3 linked regions of the Homo sapiens genome follow. The protein of the gene in region 2 interacts with the protein of the main gene of each other region in a biochemical or structural test. Each region holds a gene or a part of one and is shown on either strand. Other genes may lie near its edges.

Region 1 (7,105 bases), on a different chromosome or scaffold from region 2:
GCTACCAGTGTACTGCATGACTTTGGTTCTGTTTTCAGGTCTTTCATGGTGCTGATTCAGACATAGAATGGCTACAGAAAGACTTTGGGTTGTATGTAGTAAACATGTTTGATACTCATCAGGCAGCACGCCTTCTTAACCTGGGCAGGCACTCACTCGATCATCTCCTGAAACTCTACTGCAACGTGGACTCAAACAAGCAATATCAGCTGGCTGATTGGAGAATACGGTCAGTTTGCTCTTACTGAGGAAATGTGGGTGGCAGAAGAAAGTGATTATTCATTAACCTGTCGTCCAGAGAGACCTGGGTTTGAGCCCTACCACGCTCATTGAGATGAATGGCATCAGGCTTTTCGCCAGGCATCTTCAGCAGCGTAAAAGTGGTAGGAAATTTTTTAATGCTAAGGTGGACTTTATGATGGGCTGATGCAGTTACACTGTGTTCCATGGAAATAGTGGTTGAAAAAGAGGTGCCGCACCAGTATTTGCCCATGCTGGTCTTTTGTTTGAAACTGGGATCTTTCTACCAGATGATTTTGTGTGTGTGTAAGATCTTCTGTAGGGATGATTGTGTGTGTGTGTGTGTGTGCAAGATGACCTTCCATAGGTGGGAAAGAATTCTAAGGGACACTGTTGTTTAGCTTTACACTGAGCGTTTTTTTGTGGCATAAGGTAGCAGTTTTGCCCCACTTCCTGCAGGCCTTGCTCAGCTTGGTCGTTTTCCGCTTGGTTGCTACCTCTCCGAGGTTGCACCTGTCATAGGAAGGTGCTACTGAGCTTTTTCAGGAATTCCACATGCCAGAATGCCAGAATTTCTTTTTTTCTTTTTTTTTTTTTGAGATGCAGTTTCACTGTTGCCCAGGCTGGAGTGCAATGGCGCGATCTCGGCTCACCACAACCTCTGCCTCCCGGGTTCAAGCAATTCTCCTGCCTCAGCCTCCTGAGTAGCTAGGATTACAGGCGTGCACCACCACGCCCAGCTAATTTTGTATTTCCAGTAGAGACGAGGTTTCTCCATGTTGGTCAGACTGGTCTCAAACTCCTGACCTCAGGTGATCCTCCCGCCTCCGCCTCCCAAAGTGCTGGGATTACAGGCGTGAGCCACCGCGCCTGGCCCAGAATGCCAGAATTTCTAAATATAAAAGTAAAATTACATTTGGACTGATAAAATCCAAATAAAAGATAAAAATTGATAAAATCTAAAAACCACTCCCTGTTACGGAGCCCTTACCCTGTGCCAAGCTCTGGGCTAAGTGCTTCAAGGATGTGGTCCTGTGTAGTCCTCACAACAGCCTATGAAGTACCTGGTTCCCATTTCACAAGTTAGGTGGGTCAGCCCAAAGAGGTTAAGGAACTTGTCCAAGGACAGACATCTGGAGCTGAGATTTGAACTCAGGACACCAGTGGCCCCTTTTCTACTGCCTCTTGTGTGTGTCCAGAGTAGCTGACAGTGCCCTTATTTTAACCACCGCATTACCCTGCCTCCAATTCTACCCAGCTGTTAAAATAATGGTTTATCATGTTAAAATGCAGGAAATGTTGGCATAACTGCAGTATTGACTATGAAAGGATCTTTCATATTGGAAGGGTCTAAGGAAGTCCCAGCACCCAAGGAATAGACAAATTGAATTGCTGTCCTTGGGGGCAATCAGTAAAACATTGTCCTCTGCAATTCCAGCCCTCTGCCCGAGGAGATGCTCAGCTACGCCCGGGATGACACCCATTACCTGCTATATATCTATGACAAAATGAGGCTGGAGATGTGGGAGCGCGGCAACGGGCAGCCGGTGCAGCTGCAGGTGGTGTGGCAACGGAGCAGGGACATCTGCCTCAAGGTACACCTCAGCCGCAGTCACACAGACCGCGACACTTGGGCTCTGTGTCTGGCCAGGTTCTAGTTCTTAGGTTTGCTCCTTACATTCATGAAAAGAGCCAAACATTTTCCAGAGCCCAGGGCACAATTTTGATTCCCGTTGATTTTGAATGTTCTCTAATACTTTGTAGAAATTCATCAAACCTATCTTCACGGATGAGTCCTACCTTGAACTCTATAGGAAGCAGAAGAAGCACCTTAACACACAGCAGTTGACAGCCTTTCAGCTGCTGTTTGCCTGGAGGGATAAAACAGCTCGCAGGGAAGATGAAAGTTACGGGTAAGGGATTAGAGGTTCTTTTAATACTTGTTTCCAGACTGAGGAGATCTAATAACAAGTAAATAATGGGCTTTTTTCTTTTGCTATGAAAGCTGGTTATTTCCCCTATGTGACAGCATCTAATGGAACTTACTGGCTGAATGTAATGTGTCCCCACCGTGTGTGTGTGTGTGTGTGTGTGTGTGTGTGTGTGTGTGTGTTTTTTTTTTTCCAGATATGTACTGCCAAACCACATGATGCTGAAAATAGCTGAAGAACTGCCTAAGTGAGTTTCAAATCTGATTAATATGTTCTGACTTTCTCAGTAGATCTGATGTTCTTCAAAATCAAGCTTTTCTGGTTGCTATTACCCAAGGCTGCTTACTCAGAGATTAATGCTCCAAGCTTGGAAGGTAGCAAGTTGAAGGAATATAGAATTTCTGCCCTCAGGCTGCCATTTAAGCACTAAAACTTCTGAACTGGAATCATTTCAATGATTATGCCTTAGTTTGAGTTTATTTTAAGTCTCTGAGCCTTATAGCATCTACTTGCAAGGGAAGAAAATGTCCCAGATTCTGTCATCTGTACTTTCTTCCAAATTAAAGCAGCTCATGATCTTAAACGTTTTGTGATCTTGATTGAAGTATAAGCAAGAATGAAAATCCACAGCCCGTTGGTTGCCCCCTGCGGAATTGAGAATCCACAGTGCTATGGCACTTACTTTCAGCTCTCCCTGATTGTGGGAGTCAGGCTCCAAGAGGGATCCACTTAAAGCTTGGTGTCGCAAAGAACACATGGAGAAGTTGGCCTAGGCTGGCCTGACATCAGTGTTTCCTTAGTCACCTACCTGTAGCTTCAGCTTAGGTGGCAGCCTGGCTTTACCCAGTCATTATTCTTATCTGGAAGCCTTTAAGGGCTGCGTTTCTGAGTGACAAGTTGAGTGTGTTCTTACTTGTCTTCAGGGAACCTCAGGGCATCATAGCTTGCTGCAACCCAGTACCGCCCCTTGTGCGGCAGCAGATCAACGAAATGCACCTTTTAATCCAGCAGGCCCGAGAGATGCCCCTGCTCAAGGTAAGAAGCTTTTCTGCGGCTGGGCACAGTGGCTCACGCCTATAATCTCAGCACTTTGGGAGGCTGAGGTGGCTGGATCATTTCAGGTCAGGAGTTCGAGACCAGCCTGGCCAACATGGTGAAACCCCGTCTCTACTAAAAATACAAAAAATTAGCCAGGCGTGTGGTGCACGCCTGTAATCCCAGCTACTCCGGAGGCTGAGGCAGGAGAATTGCTTGAATCCGGGAGGCGGAGGTTGCAGTGAGCCGAGATCGCGCCACTGCACTCTAGCCTGGGAGGCAGAGCGAGACTCCGTCTCAAAAAAAAAAAAAAAGATTTTCTACTGAAGGGTCCCAACTTAGCAAGCCTGTTTTTTTTTTGTTTGTTTGTTTTTTGTTTTTTTTAGACGGAGTCTCGCTCTGTCTCCAGGCTGGAGTGCAGTGGCATGATCTCGGCTCACTGCAACCTCCGCCTCCTGGATTCAAGCAGTTCTCCTGACTCAACCTCCTGAGTCGCTGGGATTACAGGCATGCACCACCACGCCTGGCTAATTTTGTATTTTTAGTAGAGGCGGGGTTTCACCATGTTGGCCAGGCTGGTCTCGAACTCCTGACCTCAGGTGATCCACCACCTGGGCCTCCCAAAGTGCTGGGATTACAGGCGTGAGCCATCATGCCCAACTTTAGCAGGCCTGTTTTTTCTGCTAGTGTCTTATTCCTTGTGGCTTCCTAGATTCATGAGCTGGTCTGCATTCTAAACAACCCTAGGGAAATAATAGGGCTTAGGAAATCCAGTGTGTGTGTCTTGATGAATTTAGCTGCTTTTTTTTATGATAGTTGAGAGCTAAGACTCTTTATTTATGACCTTAGCTTTGATGATTCAGCAGCAAGTACTGTCTGGTAACTGGGCCAATTCACTGTTCTAAGGCAGTTAATGTGGTGGAGTGAGATGGAGCGGTGACCTCAGCAGAGGGAGCTAGTTTTGGGAGCCTGGCGATGGCCCAGATGTGAAGTGATAGCTCCCTGAATGAGTGAGGAATCACACACTGAGAAGGAAAGAACAGGTGTAGGAAGCATCAGAAGAAAAGATTGATGAGACTTCGTAGCAAATGCTGACAATGGCAGCCAGTTTTCTTTTGTTTTTTTTGTTGTTGTTGTTGTTTTGAAACAGGGTCAGCCGGGCGCGGTGGCTCACGCCTGTAATCCCAGCACTTTGGGAGGCCGAGGCGGGCGGATCACGAGGTCAGGAGATCGAGACCATCCCGGCTAAAACGGTGAAACCCCGTCTCTACTAAAAATACAAAAAATTAGCCAGGCGTAGTGGCGGGCGCCTGTAGTCCCAGCTACTTGGGAGGCTGAGGCAGGAGAATGGCGTGAACCCGGGAGGCGGAGCTTGCAGTGAGCCGAGATCCCGCCACTGCACTCCAGTCTGGGCGACAGAGCGAGACTCCGTCTCAAAAAAAAAAAGAAACAGGGTCTTGCTCTGACACCCAGGCTGGAGTGCAGTGGTGCAATCATGGCTCACTGTAGCCTCGCATCTGCTAGGCTCCCACCTTAGCCTCCTGAGCAGCTGGGACCACAGGCATACACCACCATACCCAGCTATGTTTTTTTTAATTTTTTGTAGAGATGGGTCTTGCTGTGTTTCCCAGACTGGTCTTGAACCCGTGGGCTCAAGCAGTCCTCCCACCTCAGCCTCCCAAAGTACTGGAATTACAGTTGTGAGCCACCTGCCAGCCCCACATTTGCAATTTTTGTGTTAAAAATGTCTTTGTAAGCTCTGTACTTTGTCCAAGTAAAGAGAGACCTTGATTACTAGAGAAGAGTCTTTTTCAAGCTCTTTGGAATCCTTCCTATTGTGCTTAGTCATGTTAAAGAGCTTTATTCTTTCATTCTACAAATAATTATTGAGCACCAAATAATTATCATGCCAGGCACTGTAAGGAGTGAAGAGAGGAAAGAAAATCTCTGGGCTTTTGAGAAACAGGCTGGTGAAGGAATACAGTCAGCGCTGGAGACTGGGGGTTGGACTTGAGGTGCTTGGGCAACTTTCCTCAATTCCCTTCGTTTTTTTCCTTAGTCTGAAGTTGCAGCCGGAGTGAAGAAGAGCGGACCGCTGCCCAGTGCTGAGGTAGAGTGTCGGATCTGTTTTCTCCCCCAGGAGGGAAAACGTCAAGTCACAGCCAGTGCAAGTACACCTCTGACAGAGGCCTGTGCTGACAGCTGGCAGAAAGCTACTGCCGGCTTGCACGTTTTACATGCCAGCCTGCTGGTGTCTTTTAATGCAGAGATTGGAGAATGTTCTCTTTGGACCTCACGACTGCTCCCATGCCCCTCCGGATGGCTATCCAATCATCCCAACCAGTGGTAAAGTCGAGAGCCCTCCTGACTGTCCCGAAGAGGTTGGGACACAGCTACCTTGTCTAAAATTCTGTAGGCTTGGCCGGGCGTGGTGGCTTATGCCTGTAATGCCAGCATATTGGAAGGCTGAGGCGGGTAGATCACCTGAGGTCAGGAGTTTGAGACCAGCCTGGCCAACATGGTGAAACCCCATCTCTACTAAAAATACAAAAATTAGCTGGCATGGTGGTGGGCACCTGTAATCTTAGCTACTTAGGAGGCAGAGGCAGGAGAATCACTTGAACCGAGGAGGCGGAGGTTGCAGTGAGCCGAGATTGTGCCATTGTACTCCAGCCTAGGGGACTACACTAAAACTCCATCTCAAAAAGAAAAAATAAACAAAATTCTGTAGGCTTTGACCTTACTATCTTCTGCTCCTCTAGGATCTGTGCCAGTTCAGAAGCAGGCGAGCCTCTTCCCTGATGAAAAAGAAGATAACTTGCTGGGTACCACATGCCTGATTGCCACAGCTGTCATCACGTTATTTAATGTGAGTAGCACAGAAACTTCACTGAGGTGATGAGGACCCCCTGGGATTTACTGGATTTATTCAGCAGGCTGTCTGCCTGGAGCATTGCATACACTCGGAGACTAATGCTGAGAGCAAAACCCAGCAGTGCTGGGAGAGGCATAGAGACCAATGAGCAAGGTGGCACTGACCACTCTGGAGGAGGTGGTCTGGGGACGTGGATGGGGGATTCTCTTGAGCTCTGTGTGAAGAAATCTTCCAGGAAAGGCTGACGTCCTGTTGTTGAACAGCACCTAGTGGGAGGAGGGCCTGCGCTAAGAGAACATACAAGCAGGGCTTTCCAGACAAGCTGCAGTGGTGGTGGAGGAAAAACGGTTCACCTGGATGCCCAGCAGGGGTGGCATGGGTGTACTGTCCGATGAACTGTAGAATGTGCGCTGCCCATAGCTTCCTGCCTGACCCCAGCACCACATATGTGTGCTTTCAGTGAAGAAGAGAAATGATTTTTTTTTTTTTTGAGACAATCTTGTTCTGCCACCAAGGCTGGAATGCAGTGGCACAATCATGGCTCACTGCAGCCTTGACTTCTGAGGCTCAAACGATCCTCCTGCCTCAGCCTCCTGAGTAGCTGGGATTACAGGCATGAGTCACTGTGCCCAGCTATTTCACTTTTTTTGTTTGTTTGGTTTGGTTTTTTGAGATGGAGTTTCGCTCTTGTTGCACAGGCTGGAGTGCAGTGGCATCATCTCGGCTCACTGCAACCTCCACCTCCCAGGTTCAAGCGATTCTCCTGCCTCAGCTTCCCTAGTAGCTGGGATTGCAGGCGCCCGCCACCATACTTAGCTAATATTTTATATTTTTAATAGAGATGGGGCCACTATGTTGGCCAGGCTGGTCTCGAATGCCTGACCTCAGGCGATCCACCCACCTAAGCCTCCCAAAGTGCTGGGATTACAGGCATGAGCCACCACACCCGGCATTTTTTTTTTTTTTTTTTTTTTTTTTTTTTGTGACAGGATCTCATCCTGTCACCCAGGTGGGAGTGCAGTGG
Region 2 (7,105 bases):
TAACATGTACAACTTTAGGCATGTTCTTTAACTTCTTTTGGCTCAGTTTATTCATCTGTGAGGTTTAGATGAACAAGTGCATGTGGAATGCTTAGAGTAGTGCCTGGCACATAATCAGTGCTATTCAAGAGTTTGCTGCTGATATCGTAGAGTCACTGCTTGATCCTGGGGTCAGAGTAGCTAAGGGGACAGAGGGAAATTTCTGCGCTTTTTCTGTGGAAGGAATAAATACTCAGCAGCTGCCTATAATAAAGTGTTAGTAGAAATCAATTGAATTAGGAGGAATTTCTCATAATAGAAGAGCCTTTATTTTTTAGTCCCCCTTGTCTTTATTTTTTTAGTTAGGGAAAAGGCAAGTGGCTCAGTTCAGATTTAATGAGGGCAGTTATTCTTACTTACTACCATGCTTTCAGTGTTCACCCTAACCTGTTCTAACAATAAATAACTGCTTGTTTATTGGGGCTTAGGGACAGGGAATAATTGCAGGAAAAATCTCTACTATGTTCTTCTGAAGAAAGGAAATATTTTCTCGTAGGAAAATTTGATGAAAAAATTCACATTTAAATAAAGACCTTTTTTTGTTTTTTAAAAATACATACAGTATTTGTTAAGAGCCAAAATACTTTATTAAGTGCCTTTATTTGTTTTTTATTAAAAATTTAATATGTGCTTTTTGAAATGTAAACAATGAAGAATGAAGAGTTAAAAAAATGAGTCTGCTTTGAACCTATTCCCTAATCCTTGTCTCTTTTCAGAGAAAATGTCTATTTTTTGTATGTTCTTTCCAGACCTTTTTCTACATGTATGTATATACAATTTTTTTTTAAAAACCAAATGGCATATATTAGGCACATTATGTGTTATATACAATGTTCTCTGTTCTCTGACTTTTTCCTTCTCATTGTGTGTCACTATATATAGATTTACTTCTTTATTTTTAGAAGACATGTAATATTCTCAAGGATGAATATGGTGTAATTCATTTAACTGTTTCCCTGTCGATGAATATCTAGATTATTTCCAATATTTTGTTATAGTTTATTTCAACAAATGTATTGACTGTCAGGCAGTGCTTGTGAACGGATCACAAAAATTCCTGCTCCCATGCAGTTGCCTTTTGGCAGTAGACCGGCAACAAATAAATATATGTTAGTTGATATTGAGGAATGTAAGGTTGGGGAGGAGATAGGGAGTGTGGGGGAGGGGTGTGCATTTTAAAATGGGGTGGTTAAGAGTGAGATACCAATAGATGACATTTGAGTGGAGATCTGGTGAAGGTAACATAATGAGCTCTGAAGGTATTGGTAAGGGAGGAAGAGAGGAATAGAGTATTCTAGGAAGGAGAGAAGCCCAAAGGGAGGTAGGCATGTGCCTGATGTCGTGGGGGAAGAACAATGTGGCTGGAATGAAATAAGCAAGGGAGAGTGGGAGATGAAGTCACAGAAGGTGACGGGCAGTCAGGGCAGATTGTGTTGAGCTTTTTGAACCCACTGTAAGGATTTTTAAAAGATAAATAGTTATTATTTTTTGATTTTAAAAATAGAGTTGGGGTCTTGCTGTGTTGCCCAAGTTGGTCTTGAACTCCTAGGCTCAAACAGTCCTTCCATCTTGACCTCCCAGAGTGCTTGGATTACAGGCATAAGCCACTGCACCCAGCCTATAAATATGTATTTTAATTATAGATATGGGGTCTTGCCATGTTGCCCAGGTTGGTCTCGAACTCCTGGGCTCAAGCTGTCCTCCTGCCTTGGCCTCCCAAAGTGCTGGATTTACAGGCATGAGCCACCAGGCCGGGCCCACTGTAAGGATTTTTGTCTTATGTCGAATGAGGTGGCAAGCCTTTGGAAGTTTCTGAGCAGAAGCATGGCATAATCTTATTTACATTTTGAATGGTCTCTCTGTATTCTTGATAATAGACTTTGGCCAGAAGCAAGAAGGCTATTTAGGAGGGCATTCAGGCATGGTTTGGACCAGGATAGTGGTTTGGTGGTTTGGACCAGGATAGTAGCAGTAGAGGTGGTAGGACATGGCTAGATTCTGGGTGTGTATTAAAGATGAAGTGAGAGAGAGTAGTCAAGGATCACTCTGAAATTTTGGGACTGAACAATTGGAAAGTTGAAGTTGCCGTGAAATGAAATGATGAAAACTGCAGTAGGCAAGGTTAGGAATTTGGCTTTGGGCACGTTCTGTTTGAGAATTTATTAGACATCCAACCAGAGATATTGAGTATGCAGCTGGAAATGTAAATATGAAGTTCAATGGAGAGGTCAGGTTTGGAGAAACAAATGTTGGAGTCTTCAGTTTACTAAAGCAATTTAAAACCCTCAGTTTACCTGGGAGTAAATTAGAGAAGAGAGTCAGGAACAGCCTCTGGGCACTTCAAACTTGGTTAAGGGGCTGAGGATGTGAGAAGGATGCATCGAAGAGACCAAGAAAGGAGCCAGTGAGATAGAAAGGAAACGGAGAAAACCAAGAGAAGGCAGTCAACAGTGTCACTCAAGGAGAACTGAGAATTGACCATTGAATTTAACCATGTGGTAGTGTGGGTGACCTTGCCAAGTGCAATTTTGAGAGAAAAGTAAGGTATGTTTGTAGGAGATTTGAGAAAGGATGGAAGGAAAGGAATTAGAGACTGTTAGTATAAGCATCTCTTTTGAGGAGTTTGTTGTAAAAGAGAGAAAATGGGGCCTTAGCTGGGGGGTGATATGAAGTCAAGAAATTTTTTTTTTTTTTGTTTCTTTCTTAGATGGAGAAATAAAACATTTAAACTTATGGGTAATAGTCCAGCAGACGGACAGTTTGATACATGACAAACTGGAGTAAGTTTAGAGACAAGTTTGAGGAGGACATTTTAATTTATAAGCACATGTGCAAGGATTTTTATAGGCTAGATTCTTAAAAGGATTTCCTGAGTCAAAGGGTATGTGCATTTTAAAAACCTGTACCAATTTATATTCCACTTTCAGTGTATACCCTTTCTAACACTGAACATTCTTAATCTTTAAAATTATTGCCAATCTGATAGGTGATGATATCTTCATTATTTTAATTTGTTTTACTGCTTTCTAGGAACTGTTTATTTAGTCTATCTAATTCTTTGTGATATTTTGTCAGATACTTTCTCCTGGCTGTCTCTTGCCTTTTAACTTTGCTTATGGTATCCTTTTACCATGTACGACTTTTCAAAAATGTTTTTATGCAGTTAAGTTTGTCAGCCATTTCCTATAGCATTTGGGTTTCATTTAGATGATGTAAATATTTGATATAATCTAATATGTTTATACGTTTACATTTTTAATTCATTTGGAGTTTATTTTTGTGTATGTTATGAAAAAGGTTTTCCATCTTTCTCTGTATTCTTAAACAGCTAAATACCATAGGAGTTAACTGTTTCTTGAAGGTTTGAAAGAAATTACCTGTAAAATCTAGGACTAGAACCTCTTTGTAGGGTAGGTCTTTGACTACTGTGTAATTCTTTTTCTGTGGTTAATGATCTGTATGGTTTATGTACTTCTTTTTAGTTTTGGTAGTTGATATCTTCCCAAGAACATCATTGTTTTCATTTACATTTTCAAATTTATTGGTTCAAAATTCTACATAAAGTGAGAAAATAACCAAGTCTTCTTTGCAGTATATCCCTATACTTATACCTTTATCTAGGCAATAAATGCTAGAGCTGTCCTTTCACAGATCTGGAAATTAGGTTAGCTATTTTCAGCGCTTATGGCTCTGTTCTTGGAGTTATTTCTAAATTCTTATTCTCTTTTGTTTGTAAGGTTTCTTGGCTTTGTTTCCTGTTTGCAGTCTGATCCCATTTGCTCTTTTTTTTTTTTTTTTGAGAGACAGTCTAACTCTGTTGCCCAGGCTGAAGTGTAGTGGCACAATCTTGGCTCACTGCAACCTCCACCTCCCAGGTTCAAGCAGTTCTCCTGCCTCAGACTCCCAAGTAGCTGGGATTACAGGCGTGCGCCACCACGCCTGGCTAATTTTTGTATTTTTAGTAGAGATGGGGTTTCACTATGTTGGCCAGGCTGGTCTCGAACTCCTGACCTCAGGTGATCCACCTGCCTCTGCCTCCCAAAAGTGCTGGGATTATAGCGGGAGCCACCGTGTCCAGCCCAATTTGCTCTTTAGCTTACACAGTTTCTACTGTTGAAGTCTGCTGGTAGATCTGTGCTTTTCTTGGTTTCCAGCATTTTTATTTTCATGTTTTTCTATTTCATCTGTCATATTGTAGGGATTTGGGGAGGGATGAGCGGCAAGTGCATATTTTCAGTTAACCTTTTGAAATTGGAAATCAGTTCTTTTCTGTGTAGTTTTGTTTTCTTATCGCCTTAACTGCTGGTTGCACAGTAGTTGGATAGTAACTTCACAACTCAAGTAGTAATAGATAGACTTCACTTTATTTTTTTAATGAAACCAAATGTCTCAGTGGAATATACTCATTCAGAAAAAATGTTGATATGTTGTCACTAAATATTTAAATAGTACTTTTCAAACTTAAAAGTAATCATAACATTTAGAACTATAAGGAACTTTACAGATCATTAGACCAGCTGCCTTATTTTATGGATGAGGACTTTGAGGCCAAGAGAGATTCAATGATTTATCTCAGGTGACAAAGTCAGTGATCAAGACAGAAAGCCCAAGTCTCTTTACTTCCATTCTGCAATGCTATTTGCTGTCATACACATTCATGCTGTTCTCCTTACCTATGTGATAAAGGAGGTATTTCTGTTAATACAAAAAAAATTTTTTTTATTCTAGAGATGTTACCTATGGCTTGGAATTGCTTCTAAAATTTGGACTTAGATACTTTAATAATACATTGATATAGGTGAATTTTTAAAGCATGGGCTGTCAGAGTATGCACTAGCACAAATGAAAACCATATTGTTTATTTCCCCCAAGTTTCCTCTTTTCTGCTTATGGGCTTTATATGATTTATAGACTCTTTGGATTTCTTATTAATATTTTAAAGAAGCTTAAGGAATATAAATATATATAGGCTTGAAAAATGATTTCTGTGATACGTATTTTAGACCTAAGATTTTTACTTTTTTAGTTGAATATAATATGCTCCTAGATCAACACCTATATTTAGAAGGACTAAAATACATGTTTTTCTAAAAAAAGTGCTTTGCTTACCATTTCTTCAGCAATCATTAGGGGATCTATTTATCAAACTTTAATTGCTTTGCTAATTCAACAGTTTTTAAGATGTAGGATTTTGATTATTGCTATCTCATGTTTGGTCATCATGTCTTTAGTTCTGTAAAAGTTCTGTAAAAATACAAAAAAATTACCTGGGCATGGTGGCAATGGGCCTGTAGTCCCAGCTACCCAGGAGGCTGAGAGGTGGGAGGATCGCTTGGGCCCAGCAGGCGGAAGTTGCAGTGAGTGGTGATTGCACTATCCTGGGCGACAGAGGGAGACCCCATCTCAAAACAAAACAAAACAAAAATGTTGAGGGTTTGGTGTGCATAGCATTAGTGGGCTTCGGTTGGTTCTTCTTCCACAGCCCCCCAAGAAACTTAAGAAGGGGACAAATTGGAATGTAGTTAATCTAGAATTAAATTTTAAAAAGATTTGTCTTCAGGTTTTAACTCTTAGTGCCTTTGAAATACATGATATGACCTATTGATTTTTTTTTTTGGAAACTAAAGAACAAGCTCTGTCTCTAATATGAATTCAAAGAATTTAATTTTTTCCAGTCAGCCATAATGGCAGGTGAAGAAATTAATGAAGACTATCCAGTAGAAATTCACGAGTATTTGTCAGCGTTTGAGAATTCCATTGGTGCTGTGGATGAGATGCTGAAGACCATGATGTCTGTTTCTAGAAATGAGTTGTTGCAGAAGGTATTTTAAAAATGTAATTTCCTAAAAATGAATTTCATAAAACAGAATGCTATTTTATGAAACATGTGGAAGAAGAAACAGATTAATGACCTATGCCCCTTTTCCCCTTTATTTCAATTTTATTAGTGTTTGGGTATTTTTAGGGGGGAAACAAAACAAAAGAAAACTCCAGCCTTAGGAAATACCTCCTAACTATGTTTTTAACTTAGTTTTGGAAAAAAAAAGGAGCACTCACGGTATTCTTTTTGACAGACTCTATCTTTGACCTTTTAAGTATTACAATGATGTTATCAGGGTTTCTGGAAACCCTATAGGACAAAAACAGTAAATTGACTTTGACAGTCTAAAACAAATCTCATTATGTTTCTTCTGTCTTTCGTATTGCCTAAGCCTGCTTCTTATACATAAATGCATCATGTACAATGTTTATATTGATAAATTACTTTTGACTTACAAAGCCCAGATCGTAACTCCCGAAATTAAAATAATTCAAAAGAATTTTTCTTGGGTTATGCACTTTCCTTGTCTAACTAAAGATGATACCCTAAGGTGAAAATGTGTGGACAAAAGTCACTCATTAAGAAAACTTCTTTTTACAAATTATTTTCAGATCATTTGGTTATTGGATTATATGAAGTGAAAAAAACTTCTTTGATACATTGTACTTGGTAAAAGTCAAATGTTATCAGATGGTGTTCAAAGTTTGTGTATTTTTTTTCTGTCTCACTTTCTCTCTTTCCCTCTCTCTTTCTTTTTTAACAGTTGGATCCACTTGAACAAGCAAAAGTGGATTTGGTTTCTGCATACACATTAAATTCAATGTTTTGGGGTATGTGTGTTACTTTGGAATTAATTAGAAAGCAAATTACTTATTGTGTGAAAGATGATTTATTTTTAAAATGCTAACAATTTATTTACAATTATACTTTATAACACTTTTAATAGATACTTATTTTTAAATCTAGATGCCAGTGAGCCACACATAGATTTAGTATTACATGGAAATTGAATAATTTAAAGTTTAATTGTTTGTAGGACTTTCCTTTTTTGTGAATAACTAGTTTCTTTAATTGGAATGTTTTAAATTAATACATTCACCATTTTATTCCATGAAATTTTTCTCTTGTAGTTTATTTGGCAACCCAAGGAGTTAATCCTAAGGAACATCCAGTAAAACAGGAATTGGTAAGATTTTAATTTCTTTTTATTTTATGTGTTTGTTGTTGTATTCCTGAGGTTTGTCA
Region 3 (7,708 bases), on a different chromosome or scaffold from region 2:
CACTCAGTTCACCATGTGGAGCCCCTAATCTTGGAGTTAATAAGCAATTCCCCAACACACAGTAGACATGGCATGGCCAAGCAACACCTACGACCCTTTGCAGGCCACCTTCAGCTTCTGCTTTCAGTATGAGGCATGACCCCTGTGGCATCTCGCATATGTGCCCCCCTTCCTTAGTTGCCTTCCTTGGGAATATCGACTGCAGCTAATGACTTAGTTGTCAGTTGAAGATCTGGGGATGGGATGGGCAGCTGAGCACCATTCAAAGTGCCCAGTCCTCCAAAAACAAAAACCCAGCTGCTGATTTTAACACTAAGACCATTCCAGGAATGAGACCATGGACCATGGAGAGATAGGTAGCCAACAGTAAAGAGAATGGAGGGTTTACAAAAGTAAGACAGTCACATTCCCCCCAGTTGGGGACATATATTCTCTGAAGGAAATGAAGGGAAGGAATCTGCCCAGCCTGGTTCCCCTGGCCTCTTAAGAGAGTGAGCCACAGTGGAGTCTATCCCTGTGTCCAAAAAGGACTTCGAGGTGCGAGTTGCAGGAGGTGGAAGTACAAACTGTCCAGCCTGGGGCTCTAAAATTCCCCCTTCAGATCTCAGCCTGGTAACAATGACCTTGGCTCTCTGGCCATTCAGGGACTTTGACCCTCTGGTTACATTGCCAATGAGGTGGCTGTGCTCCCGTGGTATTAGCAGGAGAAAAAGGTGACCTGCCTGCCACACCTCCGGCAAGCACCTAGATTGGTCTGCCATGGGCGGGGTGGGAGAAGGGAGGATCCCAGGACACATGTGACCTAACACATGCCATGCCACTGTGTCTGCAGAGGCACATGTCTTGCTCACCCACTGACACACACTGAACTGGGCAGGGCGGCCCTAAAATAGCTCAAGGTTGGTCAGGGTGAACCCAGCTCCTTGGAAAATAGTTGCACAACAGATCAGCTCCCCCGGTTTCAGGGCTGAGGTGGGGGATGGAATCATTAGTTGGCAGTAAATGAAGTTGACCTAGTTCACCCATCCCCCAAAAAGGAGTGAGACCTTCATGCAGAGGCTTCCAACGTGGAAGTGAGGAGCATACTCAAGAGTCTAGGTCTAGGTCTAGACCCATCACTACCAACTTATTTTGTGACCTAGAGGACATCAACTCCCCTCTTTGGGTCTCAGTTTTCCTTTCTGTGAGAAAAAAAGGACAGTATCATTTCAGCTATGATTGTGGGGTGCAGTTGCTTTGGGGAGCCCTTAGTAGGCAAACTGCAGCTTGTCTGGTGGAGATGGGGGTAAGACAATGCTCGCAGAACTAAGGAGAGAGAAGCTTGGGGAACAGGAATTTGTAATGTGGGGAAGCTGAGTCTAAATGCAGTACGGTGAAGTAGGTGCAAATAAGAGTGAAGTGGAAAGGAGTGAGAAGGGTGGTTAGGGGTGAGGTCTCTTTAGGGAGTGTAAAACAGAAGGCCATGAAAGGTCAGGAATGGCTCCATGTTACTTTGTTTTGGTGATGGGGGAGGGGGCCGGGCAGGCGGACCGGAAAAGGAGGCAGGCGGGGGCGGTGAGTCAGCCCAGCTTCACCCAGATCTCGGCGGGGCGGGGCAGGGCGGGAGCTGGGCCCTCAGCCGGCCTCACGTCCCTGCTCCACGTGTGCCTCTCGCACGTGGCTCCCCAACGAGGAACCCCGGAACTCGAGGCCCCGCCCTCCTCGCTTCCCGTCAATCGAGAGCAGTCGCCCCGCCTCCTACCCGCCCTTCCCCGGCCACCAGGTCGTGGGCTGGACCCCGAACGATAGCAGGGCCAGGACAACCTAGGGGAGGAGAGAAGGGAACACGCGTTGCCGGGGCGACCGGGGGGGCGGAGCTCATTATGTAACGAGGCCGGGAGGCAACGACCAATGGGGTGGCAGCCACGGCTTCTGCTGAATGAAAACAAACGCAGCACGTGGGCCCGGCTCTAGAGCCATGTGAGCCCTCCCGGCGGCCGGAGCCCTGTAGGTGCCCTCCCTCGGGCCGGGCACCACGCTCTGGACTCCTCAAGTGTCGCTCCCTCCTGTCACTGAGGATTCCCCAGTGAGATCCGAACGATTCTCCCAGCCCCTCCTTCCCTGAACCCCATCGCGCCACTCTTCTCAGATTCCCTCGCGCCTGCAGGAACTAGAGGAGGGGGAAGACAAGAGGGGAGGGGGTCCGTTTTCTGAGGCCAGGCATACTACAGCTGCAGGTAGTGGACAGATGGGGCCGTTTCGGGGCACTGTTCCAAAGCTCCCAGTCCCCCTAAATTCTTCGCTTCACCACCCGTACCTCCTCTCCATTTCCTCCTGCCCAGGGATTCGAGGCTCAAGGGAGCTTTGGGACTCTGAGGGGTGGTGATGGGGCGTTTCTGAGAGCATTTCCAGCCCGAACAAGCCGCTCTGGAAATCCCACACTAAAGCACCGCAGCACGTTAGCAAATCTCCGGGCCGAGGGACACCCCAGTCCCTTACAAAGTTCCTCTTTTTATAAGGCGTAGATGGAGGTGGGGAGACAGTGACAGGGAAAAGATGATAGTAAAGAAATCTCAGTACCTGTGTTGTTGTTGGAGTCCAGGGTCGTCATGTCTTCACCAGCTGAGAGCGGTCATTCAAACTGGACCTTGACTCAAACTAGAGGTTGCGATCGCCGCTGTTGCCCCCTGGGCACTGGCTAAGGGCGGGGAGTGGACCCCGCGACTCACGATCAGGATCCGAAGCACCCTGCAGCAAGGTCTTGGGGTGGCCGGACTGCAGCCCTGCAGAAGGGTTGGACGTTGAGGCAACGGAGTTCTGCTTTGCATGGGAAGAGCAGAGAGAGTGTGTAGGGGGAATCAGCCTGCAGTAGTTCTGGCTAGAAGGTAGCAAGGAGGGTCGGGTCTCTGCAGTGTACGGGGTGCCTCTGCCTGCCGGCTCCGCAGCGCTGCGGGGTGGCGAATCTGGAGCTCCCGGTGCAAAAGTCCCAGAGGAAGAGAGGTTGCAACCAGGAAGTAAGTAGGTGATGGGGAGAAACGGGGCACCGAGTCGCAAAGAGGCGAGACGTGTGCCCTGCTACGTTCCCTCGGCAGTAATATTTCACTCTGCCAATCTCAGCCGCCTTTTGCCCGAGCCTTTCCCTGGGACAGAGGGCTCTGCGCAGGCGCCAGCAGCCCAGGGTTCCCGGGCCGCACGCGGCACTGGAGCAGGTACCATGTGATCCCAGGGAGCGCCTCGTGCCCCAGTGACACACTTTTCCAACAGCCGGCACGTTGAGCTCTTGCGCGCCTGCGCAACGACAAGACTGTCGGGATTTGTAGTCCACCGACAAAGTGGGCGGACTGCGTGCCTTTCCCCTTTCTGCCTGGCAAAGCGCTTGCCGGGACCTGGGAGGAGCTGAGAGTGGGGTGGGGTGGGGTGCGCTGAAGAGTCAGGGTGGCGTGTTTAGAAAGCCTGTATGGCAGGGGCATGTGAATTTCTGGGGAGGGACTGGCAAGCTTGTTTGCTGTCTGGGAGATCAAAGCTAAGAGGCCCTTTCTGCAAACCTTGCAAACGTGAGGGCTTCACGTGATTGCAGGACTGACCTCGTCCTGAGGTTACTGGTGACCGGGAGAGAGAGAAGCCGGGGAGGGAGATTTCCCTGGAGTCAGGAGCTTAGGCTGCCCTCTGCTTCAGGGCAAAGTCCAGAGAAGGAAAGGAAATGTGACCCCCTTTCCCTTCTACTCGCCTTAGGGAGAACACCTCCAGGGGAAGGAGTTCCCACAGAGGTAGGGATGTCTGTAGGGACTCCCTGTTTGCTTGTATGACACCATTCCACCCACTCCAGTTGACTTTGGGGTGAGTCATTTCCCTTTGTCTGGGAAATAAAAAGGACAACAGAGGGGAACTAATAGTGAAAGTGCTTTGAGGTCCTAAAGTAATGGGGAAGAGGTGAGGCAGGGGGTGGGGGCAGAGTGACACCCCTGCCCCTCGGTGCTGGAGGATAAAATATGAATTCCACAGAAGATTACTACTCAGAGGGGAACATGTAGATCATCTTAAGCCTCCCTCTTTTTACTAGTGGGGAACAGGAAGCTTAGGAGAAGTGACCGACCCAAGGTCAGACGTCCATTGCTAGTTTCATCTGCCCACCCCGAATGGGAAGGTGGGTAGATGTACAAGTGAAATACTGAACAGGGGTTAGAAACAGCCAGCATTGCCGGGTGCTTTGGCTCATGCCTGTAATCCCAGCACTTTGTGAGGCTGAGGTGGGTTGATCACCTGAGGTCAGGAGTTTGAGACCAGCCTGACCAACACGGTGAAACCACGTCTCTACTAAAAATACAAAAATTAGCCGGATGTGGTGGTGGGTGCCTGTAATCCCAGCTAGTCAGGAGGCTGAGGCAGGAGAATCGCTAGAACCCGGGAGGTGGAGGTTGCAGTGAGCCGAGATCGCCATTGCACTCCGGCCTGGGGGATAGAGTGAGACTCTGTCTCCAAAACAAACAAACAAAAAACAGCCAGTATTTCGCTTCAGAGCAGCAACTGTCCCATGAGTAATAACAGATCTCAAGTAGAGGAGATCTATCATGTTAGAGGGCTTGGGTCATGGAGGGGATGGAAGCTTCTTAGGCAGCGAAGGGAGAGGGAGCCTGAGCCACCTGCTGCTCCCGCTAATTCCTCCCCAGTCCCAGTGCTTCTAGAGAGGGTTTTCTTCACATAGGAAGCCCTTCTCCACAGGCAGCTCCTGGGATGGTATTGATGGATGCCTGGGAAACATGAAAGCCACCGAAAAGGTAGAGAAAAAGAATATGGGAGTCCGGGGGTGGTGGCTGACACCTGTAATCCCAGCATTTTGGGAGGCTGAAGTGGGCAGATCACCTGAGGTCAGGAGTTCGAGACCAGCCTGGCCAACATGGTGAAACCCCATCTCTACTAAAAATACAAAAATTAGCTGGGCGTGGTGGCGCACGCCTGTAGTCCCAGCCACTCGGGAGGCTGAGGCAGGAGAATTGCTTGAACCCAGGAGATGGAGATTGCAGTGAGCCGAGATCATGCCACTGCACAACAGCCTGGGCAACAGGGTGAGAGTCCATCTCAAAGAAAAAAAAAAAAGGCCAAGTGTGGTGGTGGCTCACACCTGTAATCCCAGCACTTGGGGAGGCCGAGGCAGGTGGATCACCCGAGGTCAGGAGTTTGAGACCAGCCTGGCCAACATGGAGAAACCTCGTCTCTACTAAAAATACAAAAATTAGCTGGGCGTGGTGGCGCACGCCTGTAGTCCCAGCTACTCTACTCGGGAGGCTGAGGCAGGAGAATTGCTTGAACCCGGGAGGCAGAGGTTGCAGTGACCTGAGATCGCGCCAGTGCACTCCAGCATGGGCAACAAGACCGAAACTCCATCTCAAAAAAAGAAAAAAAAAAAAAGAATAATAATATGAGCACAGGAGTAAACTGGGTAGTGAGGACAGTGAGGTTGACTGCAGGAGCTTGACCACTCACCCTCTGACTCCTTGTAGAAGATGAGCTTCCTGGAATGGGCTAGGCTTTAGCTTTGTTCTCCTGCTCCCAAGAAAAGTGGGAGAGAGAGGGCAGTGGGCTCTTCTCTGGCCCTTTGGCCCAGAGTTGGGAAGCTGCAGCAGAGTGTGGGAGCAACTGGGAGGGGCTAAAACAAACAAGGAAAGAGGCTTTTCAGGAAAACTTGGTTCTCAGCCTCCACCCCCTCTCCCTCCACCCTCTGGGCTCTGGAGGGAAAGCTAGGAGGTGAATTGCCCTGTCCTGCCCTTGCCTGCTCTCTGTGACCTTGACTCCAAGTCAGAGCCAGGGCCAGAGCCCAGGTGTCTGTCAGGGCTGGACTCAAAATCAGGACCCCTGGCGTGCATCTAGCTCCCCACAGCACAGCACCACCACTAGCACCCTCCCTTTACTTGGCCGGGGTCCTCCCCAAGGCCCACAGCTCTGTTTGCTGCTGTGGAGGTCCTACCCACCCCCTGTATACTTGCTGGATGTTTGTTCTTCTAGGAGTGGGAGCTGGGGTGGGTCAAGACTCCTCGCCTGCTGCAATCAGTGAGAAGGAGGAGGGAGCAGAGGTAGAGAGAGCTGAAATTCAGTCAGCCTGACTCTCCTCTTGGCAAAACCTGGGTGGTTCTGCAGTCTGTGTGTGGTGTGAAGGCAGAGGCTGGGAGGGAGGGGGCAAAGGAGAGGGGTTACCCCCTTGCTCCTTCCTTCCTTCCTTTCCATTTCTTATAGGGCCCTTCCTTTTCTCCCTCACAAGTAATTCGGGTGTCTTTCTTCTACAGCTGGTGAGAGGAGTACAGAATGAAAAGGCAGGGTTCTCTCTTGGCCCCAGAAGCTTCTAGTCAGTCTGTGTACCCTGCTCCTTTCTCTGTCAGCAGCTGCTGGGAGAAGGGCAGAAACTCTGAGACCCAAAGCCACCAAAGGGAGGGGGGAAAGGCTGGGTTGTCTGGCTCTGGGTGATTCGGAGTAGAATCTTGGTTTCTCTTTGACCTCAACCTTGGCTGTAAGACCTTAAGACAACAGGTGTATCTCAACACAACCTTCCTCACCTATCCCTCCAGCTGGACATTGCTGTTCACTTCTTTTTTTTTTTGAGACAGAGTCCCACTCTATCGCCCAGGCTGGAGTGCAGTGGCTCACTGCAACCTCCACCTTCCGGGTTTAAGCCATTCTCCTGTCTCAGCGTCCCAAGTTGCTGGGACTGCAGGAGCACGCCACAATGCCTGGCTAATTTTTTTTATATTTTTAGTAGAGATGGGGTTTCACCATATTAGTCAGGCTGGTCTTGAACTCCTGACCTAAGGTGATCCACCCACCTCAGCCTCCCAAAGTGCTGGGATAGCAGGCGTGAGCCACCATGCCCGGCCTGCTGTTCACTTCTACACACACACACACACACCCCATTTCTCCCATAGCCCAGTTCAACTCAAGAAAGCACTTAACTCTTCATAAATAGTACTCAGATTGGATCCAGGTAGAAAAGATGCATATTCACAACCTGGTACAGCAAGGCACTGCCCTGGTTCTGCATACACTTCCACTTGGATTCCCAAGTCTGGGATTCTGGGGACGAACCTTCCCATTAGGGGCAGTGTTGGATCCTGCCTGTGTGTTTCCAAATATGTCTTTAATTTTCCTTGATTTATTTGGACTGCAGAGGACAGCAGACACAGAGGAGAAGAAGGAAAGGTATTGAGAACACTAAGCTCTGGTCAGTTATGTATGTGTGCACGTGTGTGTGTGTGTGTGTGTGATTCTATGACTATGAGTGAGACTGCATGTTTGTGTGTGAGTGTGAATGCTGTGTGTGTGGGTGTGCATGTTTGATCTGAGATCTGTTCTCCCTGTCAGTAGGTTGTTCTGGGTAACAGGGCAACACCCTGTGCAAATTCTGGGTGGCCTAAATCTTGGGCCAACTGCTTGACTGACTGACTGACTGACTGACTGACTGACTGAGGGTGGGTCCTTGCTGGAAACAGGTCAGGCTTCTGTAGATGCCTTCCCATCCCCCTCCTTTCTCACCAAGAAACCATTGCCCAGAGTAGAAACCTGTCTGCCCAGGTGATGCAAACCTGGTATAGAAATGCTGGGGATGCCCCTGAATCAGGGAACCAGCCATGTGCCTGGGAGAGACTCACTCCCTGCCCTCCTAAATCCTTTTCTTTGTCTCTAAAAGGCCAGCTATCTTTCCCAACCCCACCCAAAGCCTGGATGTTTTGGGGAGAACTTTAAG

Evidence for each region.
Region 1: the proteins of C1D (region 2) and EXOSC10 form a complex in vitro, tested with the Homo sapiens proteins (one study listed by IntAct).
Region 3: the proteins of C1D (region 2) and NR1D1 form a complex in vitro, tested with the Homo sapiens proteins (one study listed by BioGRID).

What each region holds. Positions count from the first base shown.
Region 1 is NC_000001.11:11,075,812-11,082,916, reverse strand, and holds part of EXOSC10 (exosome complex component 10), read left to right. Parts: intron 1-38; coding exon 39-229; intron 230-258; exon of another isoform or gene 259-383; intron 384-1,678; coding exon 1,679-1,835; intron 1,836-2,004; coding exon 2,005-2,153; intron 2,154-2,367; coding exon 2,368-2,418; intron 2,419-3,094; coding exon 3,095-3,206; intron 3,207-5,265; coding exon 5,266-5,316; intron 5,317-5,473; coding exon 5,474-5,552; intron 5,553-5,968; coding exon 5,969-6,075; intron 6,076-7,105. UniProt on the Homo sapiens protein: Catalytic component of the RNA exosome complex which has 3'->5' exoribonuclease activity and participates in a multitude of cellular RNA processing and degradation events.
Region 2 is NC_000002.12:68,045,929-68,053,033, reverse strand, and holds part of C1D (nuclear nucleic acid-binding protein C1D), read left to right. Parts: intron 1-5,714; 5' UTR 5,715-5,723; coding exon 5,724-5,861; intron 5,862-6,623; coding exon 6,624-6,690; intron 6,691-6,990; coding exon 6,991-7,046; intron 7,047-7,105. UniProt on the Homo sapiens protein: Plays a role in the recruitment of the RNA exosome complex to pre-rRNA to mediate the 3'-5' end processing of the 5.8S rRNA; this function may include MPHOSPH6.
Region 3 is NC_000017.11:40,097,505-40,105,212, forward strand, and holds the start of NR1D1 (nuclear receptor subfamily 1 group D member 1), read right to left. Parts: upstream 3,086-7,708; 5' UTR 2,591-3,085; coding exon 2,560-2,590; intron 1-2,559. UniProt on the Homo sapiens protein: Transcriptional repressor which coordinates circadian rhythm and metabolic pathways in a heme-dependent manner.